Regions from separate parts of the Homo sapiens genome. Here region 1 is linked to region 2. The links come from fine-mapping of genetic effects on gene expression. Tissue or cell type: cerebellar hemisphere. Region 2 holds a variant in brackets; the other region holds the start of a gene. All regions are shown on one strand. Distances are between the middles of the regions.

Region 1 (8,315 bases), 38 kb before region 2:
CTGTGCACAAGCTGCACCTCCTTCCTGGATGGTTTTCCCCTCTTTTCCTCCTTGTGAGCTCCTATCCCTCCTCTAAGGCCCAGCTCAGATGCTGCCTCCTCCAGAGAGCCCTCCTTGACTGCCAGCCCACCCAGAATGCGTCCTAGGCATGTATTTGGCCCTTCCACACTGCCTGAGGTCTGTTTCCAGGCTTGTCCCACTGAGCTGCAGGCTCCTTCAGGACAGGGCCAGATCTTACCACTTCCACATTCCCCTGCCCCTTGCACACAGGGCGTGACACACACAGAGGCATGATCTGCACTTGAGGGCTGAATAGTGATGTCCTCATGGGGAACTGGCCCAAAACAAGGAGCGTGGCAAGGTCAGAGTGCACCTTGGAATGTCCACTCCTTACTCTGTCCCTACTCAGGTGGGGTCTCTGGGGCTCTCCTCCCTGCTTCCCAGGGATGGGGCCTCCCAGCCGCTCACTCACCCCATCATGGCCCTGGGACAGGGCTGCCCGGCATGCCTCTGACTCCTGGATCAGGGGCTCTGAGGCCAGCAGTTGCTGCACGCAGGGCCTGGGCACGGCGTCCAGGTGCACTAGGCTGAGCAGCTCGGGCAGGTGGGCGGCCCGGGCCTGCGGGTCATGGCGCACCCAGCGCATCAGGGCCTCGAGTCGGCTTTGCTCCGGCTGTACCTGCAGCAGGTCGCCGGCCAGACAAGTGACCAGCCGCTCTCGGGGAAGCTGCAGGAACTCGTCCTCACGTGCCACAGCCTCAAAGTTCTCTCGCAGGAAGGCCCAGGCCTTGGCAGCCACGCCCAGCAGCCCTTGCTGCTCCCCGAACTCACAGATGCCCAGGCAGTTGGCGGCATCCAGTTGCTGCTGCAGGTAGCGGCCGCAGACCTTCTGCACCGAGGGGAAGTGCAGGCGCGCAGCCGTGCGTGTCAGCGCCTCCACGTTGCCCTGCGTGATGGTCAGCCGGCCTGTGTACACGAAGTCCACCAGTTGTCCCACCACGGCGGGCTCCACGTCCCGCAGCTCCACGCGCGCAGAGAAGCTCTCGGCGAAGTCACCCGCAAACATGGCATGGAAGTAGGGGCTGCTGAGCGCCAGGAGGCCGCGGTGGCATGGCAGCTCCCGGCCGCCCACCAGCAGTGTGACGTCGGCCAGCTTGGGCTGAGAGCGCAGGCGCTGCAGGCCATCCAGCATGTCCTGGGCATGCGAGGGCAGGTGGAAATCCAGGTCATCCACGTTCCGCACCATGACGCCGTGCCCAGGGGACCTCAGTAGTCCACCCACTCAAGGGAAGAAGTGCCTGGAGCCGCCCGAGCTCCTAGGAGAGAAGAGAGCAGGGTCAGCCAAGTGGGGATGGTCTCATCCTCCTGAGCAACCCACCCGGTCTGTCCATCAGCCCTTTCCACCCCTTGATAAACACAGGATGGGCATCGACCATATGCCAGTCACTTTACCCCCCATCTGCCTCAAGCCACCCCCAGAACCCTGCAAGGTAGGGCAGGTGTCATTCCCATTTGCAGTGAGGAAATTGAGGTTCAGAGAGGGTGGGAGACCTACCCATGGCCAGGCATTCAGGGCAGAACAGGGTTGGCAAAAGAACCCATGCCCTGGGTGTCATCTGCAACCCTGGGCTACACTGAGCCCACCCCCCAGGGACCCCGGAGACACCCAAACTCCCGGGAGGCGTCCTCCGTCCCAGATCCCACATTGCTGGGGAGGCCATTTGGGGGCTGCAGCAGCTCCTGCTCCCGCGGTGCTCCCAGGTGCCAGGCCACGTGCCAAGCATGCAGAGAAGCTGTGCATTCACCACTCAGCCCCACAACAGTCCTGGAGGGTGGGTGCAATCATTGCCTCTTTTACAGCTGGGGAGACTGAGGCACAGAAGGTTTCAGTCACTTGCCCAAGATCACACATTTAGGAAGTGGTGGAGCTGGAATTTGAACTCAGAGCTAGGCTTGGGGGCCCAGGCTCTGAACCCTGCATTCCACGTGGCCGGGTGGAGGCTGCTAAACAGAAACGGCCAGCCAAAGGCAGCGTTCTGGAGGGTTTCGCGTCACCACGCCCGCATGGTTGAAGTCAGCAAGGCCGCTTTCAGGCTCATGTAATTATGTGCATGTGGTTTATGTCCTTCTGGTATCGCACCCTAAGACAACCATCCCTAGGAGAGATCAAGTCTGTGCACAAGCCTTCGACCCGGGTCACCCCAGGGCGAAAGGCTGCGCAGCGGAGAGGCCGTTCGCCCGCTAGGGGGCGCCTCGCGGGGCCATCCCGGGCAGGAGAGGCGGCCGCGCGTCCACAGGTACAAAATGCGTGGGAACGCCACGCATGGAAATGACAAAGCTCAGCTGGAGAACCAGGAGGCCAAGAATCTGGCCCGGGCAGCCACGGTGCAGGTACAGGTGCAGGCGATGGGAGCTAGGGCTCCCCGACTTCCCGACCCCGGTGCCACCTCTTGACCCCAGAGCGGGGAAGCACCTGGGAGCCCACAGGGCCTCGCGGACCAACCCGGGCTCGCGCACAGGGCAGCTCACGTGGCCGGGGCCCCACACCCCAGCATCCCGGCCGGTACACGAAGTACCCACCCAACACTGCATGCATGGGGTTCCTGCCTGGCCCCTCCCCAGGAGGCGCTGGCCCCGGTGAAGGCGGCTCTGCCCTCCCTGGGCAGCCGGGAGATGAGCTGGGGCCTGAGTAGGTGACAGGGCTGTCCCTGGGCCACCGCCTGCAGGCCTCACATTCCCGTCATTGTTGTGCTCCCTTGGGCCAGCTGCTGCCGGGCGATGGGCAGGCACGCATGAGCGCCCCCACTTCCCCTGGGGGCCTCGGGGTGCCTGCTGACACCTGTCACCCTGCAGTCCCTGCATGGGTCGGGGCTTCCTGAGGGTCTCAGAGCCTCACCCCAGTGCCTGCCCAGGCCCGGAGTGAGGAAGCCGAGTGGGCAGGACAACAAAAGGCCTGAGCCCAGCCAGGCTGGCGACTGTGGCTGAGTGGCCCTGGCTGCCATCTGAGGGGTGGCCCAGCCTCCCCCTCCCACCTCTCCGGCTGGGACATGGAGGGAAACCTGTCTCCTGAGCCCCCACCCTGAGGAGCCTGGCTTGGCCGCTGGCAAGGGCCAGGGGGCGTCTCCAAAGCACCCTGCTGTGATCCCTGGCCTCGGGGGCCTAACCCACCCTCCCCGCTGCTCCTGGCTGGGTTCCCCCTGCCCTCTCTGCTGTCCCCTGCCCCAGAGCCCCCTGGATCCTACCTCTCACTCAGCCTGGACCTCGAAGCTGAGAACACAGACCCGAGAGAGCAGGACTGCCTAGCCGGCAGCCAGGGGACACGGAGGCCTGCAGGGCGGGGCAGGGCTGGTCTGGTGGCCACGTGGGGAGGGTATTTTTAGCCTCTGTCTGCAGGGCGAGGGGAGGGTCAGGCAGTGAGGGCTGGGCTGGTGGGGGAAGGAGTGAGATGCCGGCTCCTTGGTGACTGTTAGCTCAGAAAGCCCACTGAGGCCTTCCAGGGACTTGTGGCCTAGGACAGACATCAGGAAGGGCTCCAGGGCAAGGACAGGTGAAAGCTGTCGCGGTTGGGCTGGCTGGTGGGGGCAGGGATGCAGCTTCCCCACCTGTTTCCTCGTCTACAAGTTGAGTACAGTGGAGCCCGTGGTGGGGGCCTGGGGTCACAGAGACCCTCAGCCCAGGGCCAGGACACCGACAGGTGCTGCCCTCGCTGTTGATGTCAGCGGCACCTATGTGTCCTCTTGTTCTGTTGTCACGTGGGAAAACGTGATTATCATGAATAAGCACAGGTTGGTCAGCAGAGGCTTTCCGAGCTTGGGGTCCATGGTGGCGGTAGGGAAACTTTGCCCAGAGAGGGGAGGTGCCACACTCAGTTGCCCCGCCCAGCTAGCGTGGATAGGGGAGATCTTGGGGCTCCTTGCCCTGCTACCCCATGGCCTTGGCCTCGGGGCTGCCCAGGACGGCTAAGAAACAGGGTCACCTAAAAATACAGCAGTGGACTATCAGCCTCCCGTCCAGCACTTGGTTCACGGTAGTCGCAGGGGGAAGCTCTCACGCCTGGGACTGAAATGGGCTCAGAACCACAGGCCCTGACCAAGGTCAGGTGGGTTGAGTTGGGGACCCAAGAGGCCACTGGACATTTCTCACACCAGTGACCAGAGCAGAGCTTTGTGGCTGAGGGACTTCAGGTGCATGGGAGAGAAGCCCTCAGCCCTCAGCCCTCTACCCATCGGCCATGTGGGCCTGAGCAGTATGACCATTTCCAGGTGTGCTGCGACCTGGAGGAACTGGGGAGTATTGGGTCTGGCTGTGGCCTCTTGATGCTACTAGGGATTGTCCTAATGCTCTTACAGACCAGAGAGGTCCAGGCGGCCCCCAGGGAGACAGAACCCCACTCCTGGTCCTGAGATGCACACAGCCTATGGAGGGGAAGCTCACCTACAAATTACTGCCAAGTCTGCAAGGTGCCCTTAGGGTTACCTTCCATAGAGATTCCCTGAGTCCATGCTTCCTCTACAGCCCAGCCTGGCCCAGCCATAGCCCAGCCATAGCTCAGCCCAGCTCAGCTATTGCCCAACCATAGCCCAGCCATAGCCCAGCCCAGCTCAGCTATTGCCCAACCATAGCCCAGCCATAGCCCAGTCCAGCTCAGCTATTGCCCAACCATAGCCCAGCCATAGCCCAGTCCAGCTCAGCTATTGCCCAGCCATAGCCCAGCCATAGCCCAGCCCAGCTCAGCCATAGTCCAGCCGTAGCCCAGCCGTAGCCCAGCCCAGCCTGGCCCCTGCTCCTGCTCTTTCCCCTGCTCGTGTCCCACACTGTCCCAGGGTTTTTCCCCAGCCTTGGGCATCAGCCTCATGTTGTGTGGGGGACCCTCATGGAGGACCCCAACTCTCGCTGTGTCCAGGACCACTATGGGGTGGGCGCTAGAGTGTTGGGTTTCCGTACTGTCCCCCTTGTTTGCAGTCCTGGCTCGGGCTGGAGGAAATGAGGACAGGGGATTCTGATGACAGGCTGCTGTCACGGGGAGCTGGCTCTGCTCGGGGAACAGCACTGCTTGCCAAGTGTGGAGGCCTCACAGCAGCCGTCGTGGGGCTCGGAGCCCCAGCACCTCAGATGACAGGTCAGTCTGGGAAACTCAACACCGGGGGCGCAAAACAGATCCTCCATCAAGAGATTGCTACTGAGTGGCGCAGTTTTTAAAAATACACCACTTGTTTCTTTTTATGAGGATAAAAATAACACAAGTTCCTTTTGGAAAACAGAAAAATAAAAAGCAGAAAGTGTCATTAGTAAAAGATCATTTGCCATTAGTATGCTTCCAGCTCTTTCCTGTTGTCAAAATGAGCCTGCCTGCGTGTGTGGGTCAGCGCCCTTTCCTCACACCTTGTTATATTGTGGGCGTTTCTGATGGGATCAGCACTTGAAGATTTTGAATTTCTGCCGGGCATGGTGGCTCATGCCTGTAATCCCAGCACTTTGGGAGGCTGAGGCGGGTGGATCACCTGAGGTCAGGAGTTTGAGATCAGCCTGGCCGACATAGTGAAACCCCATCTCTACTAAAAACACAACAATTAGCCAGGAGTAGTGGCGGTGCACACCTATAGTCCCAGCCCGCAGACCCTCCCGCCCCAGGCCAGGCTTCCGATGACTGCAGTTGGGCTGAGCACTTCATGGGACCCTCCTGAGACATCCTGAGGTGCAGCCACCCCACACACGTGCTCCCGAGGAGAAACTGAGAGACGATGCGTGTGACCATGCGTGTGTGCTGTTCAAGGACATTGGATTTCAGGCAGTTGACTATGCAGCACTAGGTCACTAGTACAGCAGACAAAAACATGTAAACAGCAGAGCAATGGGGGGCTTCCATCTCAGATACGAAGATGTCATCATTACAGCGTAAAATGCCATCAAACAAGGTGGTTTTGACCCAAGAATAAACAAATCCCAACAGCCAATGCACAGAAAGCGGTGCCACGGCAAGTCCGCAGGGAAGGAGGGGCCGTCTGACGTGTGAGAGTGCTGGTGAAAGGGAAACAAGGTCAGCCCGATGGAACCCAGGCCCCAAATCACCCCAGATGGAGTGAGAGGTGCTGTGCAGGGCTGTAAGGCCCCCGAGAAGGGGGCAGACTGATATGCGGACCCAGCCTGGGACATCCTCACAGCTGGAAGGCCCCCAGCCCAGCAGAGGGGAGCTCACTCACACAGTTTTTTGTTTGTTTGTTTGTTTGTCTCTTTGGAGATGGAGTCTCGCTTTATCACCCAGGTTGGAGTGCAGTGGTGCAATCTCCGCTCACGGCAACCTCCGCCTCCTGGGTTCAAGCGATTCTCCTGCCTCAGCCTCCTGAGTAGCTGGGATTACAGGTATGCACCACCATGCCCAGCTAATTTTTCTGTATTCTTAGTAGGGATGGGGTTTCACCATGTTGGCCAGGATGGTCTCCTGACCTCAAGTGATCTGCCTGCCTTGGCCTCCCAGAGTGCTGGGATTACAGGCGTGAGCCACTGCACCCGGCCTTACAGATTTTAACTCGGTGATTTCACGCTCGGAATCCATTCTGAGGGAATAATCACACAGGTGACACCACCTTCATTGTAATAGTCCCAAATGGAAAACAGCCTGAGCGTCCACGAACAGAAGGAGGTTATCACTCCCAGCTTCACAAAGAGCAACGTCATCCTATTGAGATGAAATTGAAAATCTTTTTTGTTTTTGAGACAGAGTCTTGCTCTGTCACCCAGGCTGGAGTGCAGTGGCATGAGCTCGGCTCACTACAACCTCTGCCTCCCAGGTTCGAGCAATTCTGCCTCAGCTTCCCGAGTAGCTGGGATTACAGGTGCCCGCCACCACGCCCAGCTAATTTTTGTGTTTTTAGTAGAGACGGGGTTTCACCATGTCGGCGAGGATGATCTTGATCTCTTGACCTCGTGATCCACCTGCCTCAGCCTCCCAAAGTGCTGGGATTACAGGCGTGAGCCACCGCACCCGGCCGACATTGAATTTTTAAATGAGCTGGGCTTTGCATTAAGCCTGTGCACCGACATGCAGGGAGCCCGCCCCTCTGCACATTGACCCAGCTGCGAGGGAGAAGCTGGGGTTCCAGCACCGCCCTTGGGGAGGGTTTCTGTTTTTCCACATCTCCATCCTGCCATCTATGGACTGGGGACACGGGGCTCCCTTTCTCCTGGATGTTTCTGACTCATGGGAAGCCCCCAGGCTTTGCGCCTTTGCTTTGCGTGTGACCACCTCACTGACATCGGCACCTCCGGGGTGCTGTAGATTCCGTCTCTGGTCCTCAGTGAGTCTTTTGTCAATTGAACAACAGATTTATAGGCACCAAATGGGCCCTACAGCTGTGAGTGTGGTGGCGCAGGGGCCAGTGCCTGCCTGCCCCCGGGGACACGTGCTTCCCACAGGTGAGCTGCTGGTGGGCCACGGGTGCCAGCTGCTGGGAATCGGAGCCGCCTGGAATGTGTTAAAACCCCAGCTTTCCAGACCTACCCCAGGCCAAGGGAATCAGAATCCCTGGGGCAGCTCCCCCAGAGGCAGGGTGTTGGCAGAAGGTCATTTAGGGGTCACCCCAGCAGCACTCCAGGGGCCTAGCCTGGATCTGAGCCACATCTCACCCCTCGCCTGGCTCATCCCACCCCAGGCTCTCCTGGGACCCCTGATGTGTGTGTCCCCTGCTGGCCTTGATCCAGCTCCTCAGCTGGGAAACTGAGGCCTGGAGGCTATGGAGGACTTGCCCAAGGGCATAGCGAGTGGGCAGGGACAGCCGGAGCCAGGAGGGCCGACTCCCTGCCCAGTGCTCTCTCTTGAGCACCCTCGGCCAGGGAGTGACCTGAGGCCTGCTGCCCCTGCCTCCAGCCCCCTCCTCTGTCAGGGCCCTCAGAACAACATTGCCAGCAGCTGGTGCATGAGGGGATCTCAGGAGACACTGCAGCGCCCAAACCTTCTGATGCCCCCAGCCAAGGGCTCTCCCTAGACCCACCTGCTGCCCCTTGCCCTCTGCCAGCCCTGGGCAGTGACCGCACTGGGTGGAGCAGCCCTGCTCTGTCTCCACTGGGGGCGTGTTGTGGCCAAGAGCCAGGGCCCCACTGACTGAGAGGCAGCGTTCAGGATGCTCCTGGCTGCTCCCAGTGCCCTGCTCGTTAGAAGCAGCTCAGAAACACCTGTAATCCCAGCACTTTGAGAGGCTGAGGCGCGCAGACTGCTTGAGCCCAGGAGTTCAAGACCAGCCTGGGCAACATAGCAAGACTTTGTCCCTACAAAAAATAAAAAGAAATTAGCTGGGCATGGTGGCTGACACCTGTAGATT
Region 2 (8,315 bases):
CACCTGCTCCCCACTTCTGATAGACGAATCTGAGCAACTCAGTGTCCACCCCAGAGGAGAGTCCAGTCACAGGCCTCAGCTGGCAGAGGGGAAACAGAGGCTGGGAGCTGATTTGTCCAGGGACTTGCACCTGGGTTTGAATTCCCCTCCCCTCACAAAGTCCCCCAGTACCAGCCCCCTAGCAGCCTCTCCCCTGCTCCTAGCAAGGGGGACACAGGACCTTGGTGGCTGCTTTCTGGCCTTGGACCACACAGGGATCGTCCCCTGCACCTGCAGAGCCTGAGGGTCCACTCCCTCATGGAATGTGCCCCAAAGGGCTGCCAGTATGCCTTGGTGCCCTTCTCAGGGGAGGATCCGTGCTTTCACCAGACTCTGCCAGGTGTCCTTGACTGCATCCAGGGTTGGAACAGGTGGTGTCCAGCGCGGTGGCTGGGAGCAGGCCATGATGCAGCCAGTGGGTCGGGGGCAACTGGAGGGGGCATGGTCTGGCCAGGGGCAGCCACCTCTCGGCTGCTGCTGGTCAATGCCAGGCGGGAACTAGGCCGGGGGTACAGGACCTTCCCATTTGTGTGTGCGTGTGTGCGTGTGTGTGTGCATATTAACATGAAGCCTCCTGGTTTTCTTCTTTTTTTTGAGACATGGTCTTGCTCTATCGCCCAGGCTGGAGTGCAGTGGCACAATCCCAGCTTACTGCAACCTCCGCCTCCCAGACTCAAGTGATCCTCCCACCTCAGCCTCCTGAGTTGCTGGGACTACAGGCAGTCACCACCATGCCTGGCTAATTTTTAAATAAATTTTTTTGTAGAGATGGAGGTCTCGCTACATTGCCCAGGCCAGTCTTGAATTCCTGGGCTCAAGCAATCCTCCAGCCCCAGCCTCCCAAGATGCTGGGATTACAGGCATGAGCCACTGTGCTCGGCCCAAGTCTCCCAGTTTTCAATGGTGGAAACTTCTTTAAAAGCCGTGTGGGTCTGAGAGAGACTGTGGCCAGCCAAGGCTGAGGGTGGTGTGGACGCTCTGGAGAAAAGCCACAGAAGCGAATCCCAAAGGCCTTTGCCAAGCAGTCCAGGATGGGAACACCCGGGAATGAGAACCCGATTCCACAAGCAAGCTGTCGGGGCTTGTCCTGGAGCTAAGGGGGTGTGGGGGACTGAGGCCTCTGGGGCAGCGACAGGAAAATGAGATGCTGCCTCGAAAAGAGAAGAGCCGTGGTCAGAGGTAGGTGGGTCCCTGGGGGACAGGAAGGTTCGCCCTCAGCCAAGACAGTAGGAGGCAGAGGGCCTGTTCCTATGACAACAGTGACCTTTGTAAGCAGGGCGAGGACTGGAGGAGCTTCCAGGTGGGGAGGGAGGCCATCTGCCTTACTGGCTGTCCTGACCCTGGTCCTTCCTCGTTGCCCATCCACTAATTCCAGCAGGGGGCACAGGGCCCCAGAGACGATGAGGCCAGCGCCCGGCTCTAGGGGTCCCAGCACAGGGGTGGGGCAGTGCAGAGGCAGCTCCAGCCTCTGTGTCCCCAAGTCCACTAGACAGTCCCCACTCCTGTCAGGTGATGGGAGGGTGCCCTCACAGGTTGCCAGCTGCCCACGTCCCCAGCTGTTTTAGGTCCCGAGATGCCCCCAGGTGGGGCCAGAGCTGCCCTGGGCATCACAGCAGCATCTTGCCATCGTCACCGCCCCCAGCCACTCTCCAAGCTGAAGCACTGGCCTGTGTCCCCTTGGGCCCTGGCATGGCACTGCCACTGCCTGGCCTGTGGGTAGAGGCCTCATTGCCCTTGGCTCCTGCCAGCTCACCCCCACAGTGACAGCATGCCCGCCTGCAGGATTCACCTCAAAGGCCACCAGCCTGTCCTCTTGGCCCTCCATGGTGCAGCCTCCCCTTGGCCAGCTCGCCCCAGGCTGCCCCCCCAGGCGGGACTTTGGGCTCCTTACCTGCCATGCGCGGCTGTCAGGAGCTTGAGGCAGGTCAGGTCCCCACTGACGGCAGCGTGGTGCAGCGGCCGGGCTCCCTCCCGGGTCTCTAGCGTGGCCGAGTGGCCCTCGTGGAGCAGCCACTCCACCAGCACTGGGTGTCCAAAACGGGCGGCCAGGTGCAGCGGGGAGACGCCCGAGGCATCTTGGTCCTACCAAGCCCCGGGTAGGTCAGTGAGTGGGGGGTAGGCCGTGAGGTCAGAGCCAGCTGCCGGAGGTGGGCCCTGGGCGAGGGCTCACACTGCCTGCAACCCAGTGAAGGGGCTTCCAGCTCCTTCCTCCTTCCCTCCGTTTCTGCCTGCAACATGGAGGGAGGTGCTCCCTGCTGGGACTGAGGTGAGAGGAGGGCCAGGACTCAGGTCCAGGTCTTGGGAGGCCACCTCTGGCAACCCTGCCCTCTCCTGGGCCCGTCCCCAGTGTGGAGAAGGCCCTTTCCCACGCAGTCGGGTGCCCGCAGACACCTGCCCACTCTGCTCATGGTCAGAAAGGCTTCCCAGGACACCTACCTCTGGCTGGTCCCCTGCCCCAGTGCCCTCCCGCTGGCCACAGGGTCCCGGGGCCAGGGAGCGTTCCTACCACAGGTGTCAGGGGTCCAGCAGACCTGGGCCTTCTCCAAGGGCCCTGTCAGAATGGATCCCCAGGCAGGCACAGCTCCCGCCTGCTGCCCTTGGGTTTGGCGGAAGGGCCGACAGGAACAGGATGCTGGGCCGGGACTCTCAGGTGCTCTGGCGAGCCAGGTGCTGGGGAACCTTCCCGCTCCGCAGTCTAAGCAGGCCCCACCGGCCCCCACCTCAACTCTGACCTCTGGGCGGCGGCGTTCTAAGGCCGGTCAGTCCTGCTCACCCTCAGCCCTGAAAGCTCCACAGGGCTGAGCGACAGCTCTAAGGGCCTCGCCTGCACAAAGGGGACTGGGCAGGCAGGATAGGGGAGGGGGGCCCAGTAGAAACGATCCGGACAAGACGATCACCATCAGCAGCCCTAACTCCCGTCCCCCAGGGCTAGGCTCCCAGCTCTCAAGCCCAAGTTCCCACAGTGCTTCTGTAAGGATCCCTTTCTAGACCCTTTGGGAGGCAGGCCCTGTGGACCAGGCCTGATCAGAGACAGGGGTCCTGATATCTGGCAAGACCCCCACTGGCAACGCCCAGCTTCCTGGCAGGGAAGGTGATAAGAAAATTTAGGAGGTGTTCTTGGCTCTCAAGCCTTTGTGCTCTGAGAGGCGTGGGGCAGAGACGGTAACCACTGACTGAGTCCCCAAGAGAAACAAAGGGCCCAGGGCCATGGAGCCCGGGGTGGCCAGTACTCTGATCCTCCGTGGCTCACACCTCCCTGGTTCCACCCCAGCCAGCTTCGTGGAGCCAGGCTGCCCCATCCCCGCTCACCTGCAGACCGCAGCCCCCCTCGCGGACCAGCCAGCACAGCTCGGCCAGGCTGCCCGTGGCAGCGGCGTCATGCGCTGGGGTGGCCCCGTTGTGGGCCCGCTGGTTGCCGGGCAGCTGGGCCCGCTGCACCAAGAACTTGACGCAGTCCAGGTGGCCAGCCCGGGTGGCGTGGTGAACCAGGCCGGCCCCCAGAGCATCGGTGATGCCCGGGCCCAGGGCGCCAGCCTCCAGCAGCCGCTCCAACGTCGCCACATCCCCATCCTTGGCGGCCACGAGTGCCCGCTGCTTCTCCATCCTCTGGCCCGGGCTCTCAGTGGCGACTCATGCACAGGCTGGGGCTTCCTGTTTCAGACGTGGATGAAGCTGCCGGCTCTGGTTACCCGATAAGCTGCCACAGGGCAGATGGGAGGCGGTGGGGTGGGGTCGGGTGGGGGGACAGGCCTTGAGGACCTGCCCAAGCCACTCCCACAGTGTGAGGGTGCCAGGTGCCTGGAGCTGGGAGGATGGAGTACAGGGCACAGGGAAAGGCCCACACCAGGCTAGGTCAGGGCTGGGTATGGCCAGCAGAGAAAGGAGGCTGGCCCTGAGGCTGCTCAGATCTGTCCAGATGGCAGGAACTTCATCTGTGGAGCGAGGGCTGAGGATACACGCCACTGAGCTTCTCACAGGAGCCCCGAGTGGCCTGGGAGACAGTTCCCCCAACTCTCACAGAAGGGCAGACCCCCAGCCGCCACCACAGTGTGTCTGAAGTAAAGGGTGCCCAGTAGGTCTACATGTTTGGCTGTGTTGACACCCACAGAGCTGAGCGCCCCGCCTCTGGGTCCCGGCCCTCGGCCCTGGAGGCTCCTAGGAATCTCTGGGGACACAGTGGCTCCACGGGGCCTGCAATGGGCTCAGGACCCTGACTTGGGTGTGTCCAGGCCTCTGAGGCGAGAAGGTGTCAGCCCCTGCCTCGGCCCCCTCTCCAACTACACGGACCAAGTCTCTGGGCTGCAGCCCCAAGGGCCCAAGTACATTTAACCCCTTTCCAGATTGTTCTGGACAATCCATAGTTCTTCTTTAGGGAAGTCAGGACCACCACAGCCTCTTCCTGGCAGCAATGGGAAGCTGCAGATGGGGGACCCATTACATTTGTAGGGGCTTCCGGAGAC[A/G]CAGCCTCAAGCTGGATTTCTGGGCTAACGCATCATCACACAATGGTGACCTGGGGGCTGCTGCACCCCTGGCTTCCCCCCGACAGGCTCTGTCAGATGACTTTGTGCCCAAGCGCAGTGCCCACTAGAGAAACCACAGGATCCCCAAGTCGGGCACTGAAATCTTTTATTCGTTAATTTAGTTTCTGGCAAGTGTTTCCTCAAAATCATCAAGTAGTTCCTTGAACCGTAAAACCACACATTAAAAATGTTATTCCACTGAAAATGACTCCTATGCAAATATCGACATGTGATGTGTGTCCAAATGCCAGAGCATTTTGAGAAAAGAATCCTCTGCAAATAAAATTAAGGTAAAAGCTGAGTCAGGGATGATCCGATTCCCACCCCAGGAATGACCTGGAGCTGCACCAACTCAGCGAGGTTGGAGCTGAAACCCTGAGTTAATAATGATCAAAAGGGACAAGACAGGAAGGCCTGGGGACCGTGGACAGGGAAGTGCGCAGCCCTGATTGCCAGTGGGCGGAACAGGGTCAGGCTCGGGGAAGCAGGAGGGGTGGTGGGCGGTGGGCGCTGAGCAGAGCAGGCCTGGCCGAGGCTGGGGGCCACTGTGCACTGAGGCCAGAGGAGCAGGGTGGTGGGGGCAGCTTTGGAAAGGGACTAAAAAGGGCCTGAGAAGAGACCACTCTGGAAAGGTGCATGTAGAGGCCATGATCAAAACAAAAAAATCAAGTTTCCTACGTTCATGATAGCATTTGGCTGACAATGAGTTATAAATACTTGGATTCTATCTTCCAGATAAAAACACCTTCCAGGAAAGGGCACTCACAACAGGCGTGCCCAGTTCCCAGTGGGGAGGGTGGATAAAGCTAAGTGTTTCCGCTTCACCACTGGAGGACGGTTCTATGTGGGCGGTCCCATGTGGGCGGTCCCATGTGGGCGGTCCCATGTGGGCGGTCCTATGTGGGCGGTCCTATGTGGGCGGTCCCATGTGGGCAGTCCTATGCGGCGTTGGTGTCCTGGGCCCTGTGAGCTCTGCAGGGGTCCAGGGAAGGAAACTGGGGGTGCACACTCGCTGGCACTCCAGGACAAAATGCAGAGGGGGCATGAGACAGTCATCCTGGCACAGCCCTCAGGAGGGAACTGGAGGGACAACCCTGTGCCCTGCCACGGGCTTCCCAGAAGCGGGGTGGGGAAGGCGGCCCCAGTGCTAGGCCTGGTCCTCCAGCTGCGCCACGGCCTGCTTCAGGTCCTGCACGACGAGGTCCACCTCGGCCCTGGTGGTGCTGCGGCCCACGCTGAGCCGGAGCGCGTTCCTGGCCACGTCGAAGGGGACACCGTAGCTCAGCAGCACTGGGGACGGCCTGGGGAGGGCGAGACCGAGCTGCAGCTGCTGCTGAGGGCACATGGAAGAGACACAGCCCCCCCTGCTCTGGACCACTCCCCTAGTGGGGCTCTGCCCACCCGGATGTGCGCCTGCCTCGCCTGGCATCCACCTCCTGCTAAACTCCCAGACCAAGCACACCCCTAAGATCACCCACATCAAGGTGTGGCTCAAAGTCGCCCCCGTTCTCCCTGCAGAGTTCTCTTGCACTTGGCACTCCCAGGTGACACTGCCTCCCTCTCGCACTGAGCTCTGGGGCCAGGGGCTCTCCTGTCCTTGAGGGGTCTGAGGTCCTGGAGAACACGGATGCCGACACAGACAGTGCCTTACCCATGCGGCCCACCTGAGCCACTTGGTAACTTCATGGCACCTAGCATGGGGCTTTGCAGACACTAGGGACCCAGTCAGTATCTAGCCATGAACAGATGACTGCGTGGGGACATCCTGAAGCAAGGCTGTTGGAGGCTCGAGATGTGGGCTCTGTCAAGGGGCCTGACCTCATCACACCCGGGTCCCTTTCCTCCCCTGCCCCTCCTGCAGCAGGGCACTGTCCCCCCAACAAAGGGCCCCATCCTGCCCCTCCTTTTCCCTGGAGCCAGGCCCACCACTGTCTCGCTCCAGGTGCTCCTGCACAATCCCTCTGCCCTGACCTTGATGGCCACGTGCTGCTGGCTACAGTTCCGCTCTCTCCCCAGAACCCTGAGTGTTCCTCCTGCGTCCACTCCGACCTCCCACAGGGGCCTCACGTTTTCAGCAGACCAGACCCAGAACCACTTCTCCCCTGCTGCCAGCAGGCCGCTGCTCGGGCACCCCACGCCCTCTACCCCACAGTCTCCGCCAGGCAGCCCACCCGCTCACCCGGGCCCTGCTATCTGAGAATCTCTGCTGCATCTTGCAGATGGCTGATCTGACACCTGAGTCTGCTCACACCATGGCCCTCAGGGCTCCCACTTCCATGAGGTTTAAGTAAGCACTGACACTCAGGCCATCCCCACCCCAGCCCACCCCAGCCCGCCCCAGCCCTCCCCAGCCCCGGCCACGCTGGCCCTCCAGGCCCTGCCCTCCCTCCGCCTTCAGAACTGAGCACGAGAAGCCCTCTTCTCCCGCACAAGTCCTAGTCCTTCAGATGGCAGCTTGGAAGTCACTTCTTCCAGGAAGCCCTCCCTCTGCCCCTCCTAGGGCCCAGACAGGGCTGTCCTTCACCAGCCAGAGTGCGGCCCAGTGGCCGGATCCTGCCGCCTGCCCACCACACCCAGTGCCCGGAGGACCCCTATGCCCTGGACTGGGTTTGTGAAGAGCACTTACTGGTCCCCGTGGTCCGAGTGGCACGCGGCCCCCACACTGGCCATCAGCACTCGGCACTGCGCAAGCACCACGTGGCCTGCGGAGACAGAGCACATGCCCCTGAGATGGGGCTCCAGCCAGGTTGCCCTTCTGTCCCTTCCCGGGGTCCTGCTGGGCGCAGGCTGCTTCCCTCCCTCTGTGCCACCTGGTGGAATTCCAGCACTGGCCATTCTGGCAGCTGGGGAGAGATCTCACAGCAGGAGCCGAAGAAAACGCTTCCTTTCTCCCTTGGCTGCACAAACGCAGACACTATTCTGCCTCACAAAGCTGGCCTTGAAAATCGCATTTGTAATCAACTGCCTGCTAAGACACCTGGAGTCCTGACCCGCTCCTTCCTTACAAGCTGGCAGCCCCGGCAATATCACGTCTCCACCTGTGTTCTGGATGGTAGAGACACGTGGGAGTTCTATTAAGCCAGAAGGCATTTCCCTCTTCTTTCACAAGCACAGCCATTAATGACTGCTGATGTAATTAACCTGAGAATTTCAGCCAGGTGCAGTGGCTTACACCTGTAATCCCAGCACTTTGGGAGGCCAAGGTAGAAGGACTGCTTGAGCCAGGAGTTTGAGACCAGCCTGGGCAACACAGGGAAACCCTATCTCTACAAAATATTTTTTAAAAATTAGCCAAGGCCGGGCATAGTGGCTCATGCCTGTAATCCCAGCACTTTGGGGGGCCAAGGTGGGTGGATCGCCTGAGGTCAGGAGTTCGAGACCAGCCTTGCCAACATGGCAACACCCCGTGTCTACTTAAAATACAAAAATTAGCCCAGCGTGGTGGCAGGCACCTGTAATCCCAGCTACTCTGGACGCTGAGGCAGGAGAATCGCTTGAACCCAGGAGGTGGAGGTTGTGGTGAGCCGAGATCATACCACTGTACTCAAGCCTGGGCAATAAGAGTGAAACTCCATCTCAAAAAAAAAAAAAAAAGTTATCCAGGTGTGGTGGTGCATGCCTGTAGTCCCAGCTACTAGGGAGGCTGAGGCAGGAGGATCACTTGAACCCAGAAGGTCAAGGCTACAGTGGGCTGTGATTGCGCCACAGCACTCCAGCCTGGGTGACGACAGAGTGAGACCCTGAATCAAAAAATAA

Direction of the effects. Alleles are on the strand shown, and positions count from the first base shown. SD is a standard deviation of normalised expression in the study named.
As copies of G replace A in region 2, the expression in cerebellar hemisphere of the gene that starts at base 3,333 in region 1 goes up (large effect, 0.88 SD a copy in GTEx).

Evidence for each region.
Region 1: it holds the start of KLHL30, and the variant in region 2 is fine-mapped to the expression of KLHL30 in cerebellar hemisphere (GTEx, PIP above 0.99). The same link has a PIP of 0.9 or more in cerebellum.

Annotation. Positions count from the first base shown.
Region 1 is chr2:238,133,686-238,142,000 of GRCh38, reverse strand. It overlaps KLHL30 (kelch like family member 30), which reads right to left and starts at 3,333. Exons shown (of 8, transcript NM_198582.4): 1 at 3,243-3,333; 2 at 473-1,316. The coding sequence starts at 1,246. RefSeq lists an enhancer at 564-1,077.
Region 2 is chr2:238,095,747-238,104,061 of GRCh38, reverse strand. It overlaps SCLY (selenocysteine lyase), which reads right to left. Exons shown (of 12, transcript NM_016510.7): 11 at 7,186-7,261; 12 at 4,649-5,860. The coding sequence ends at 5,707. It overlaps ESPNL (espin like), which reads right to left and starts at 3,722. Exons shown (of 9, transcript NM_194312.4): 1 at 3,349-3,722; 2 at 1,931-2,121. The coding sequence starts at 3,642. UBE2F-SCLY (UBE2F-SCLY readthrough (NMD candidate)) reads right to left here. Exons shown (of 19, transcript NR_037904.1): 18 at 7,186-7,261; 19 at 4,649-5,860. RefSeq lists enhancers at 1,345-1,514, 5,280-5,574, 5,209-5,877, 5,878-6,545, 6,546-7,214 and 1 more. The variant A/G (reference allele first, on the strand shown) is at 4,500.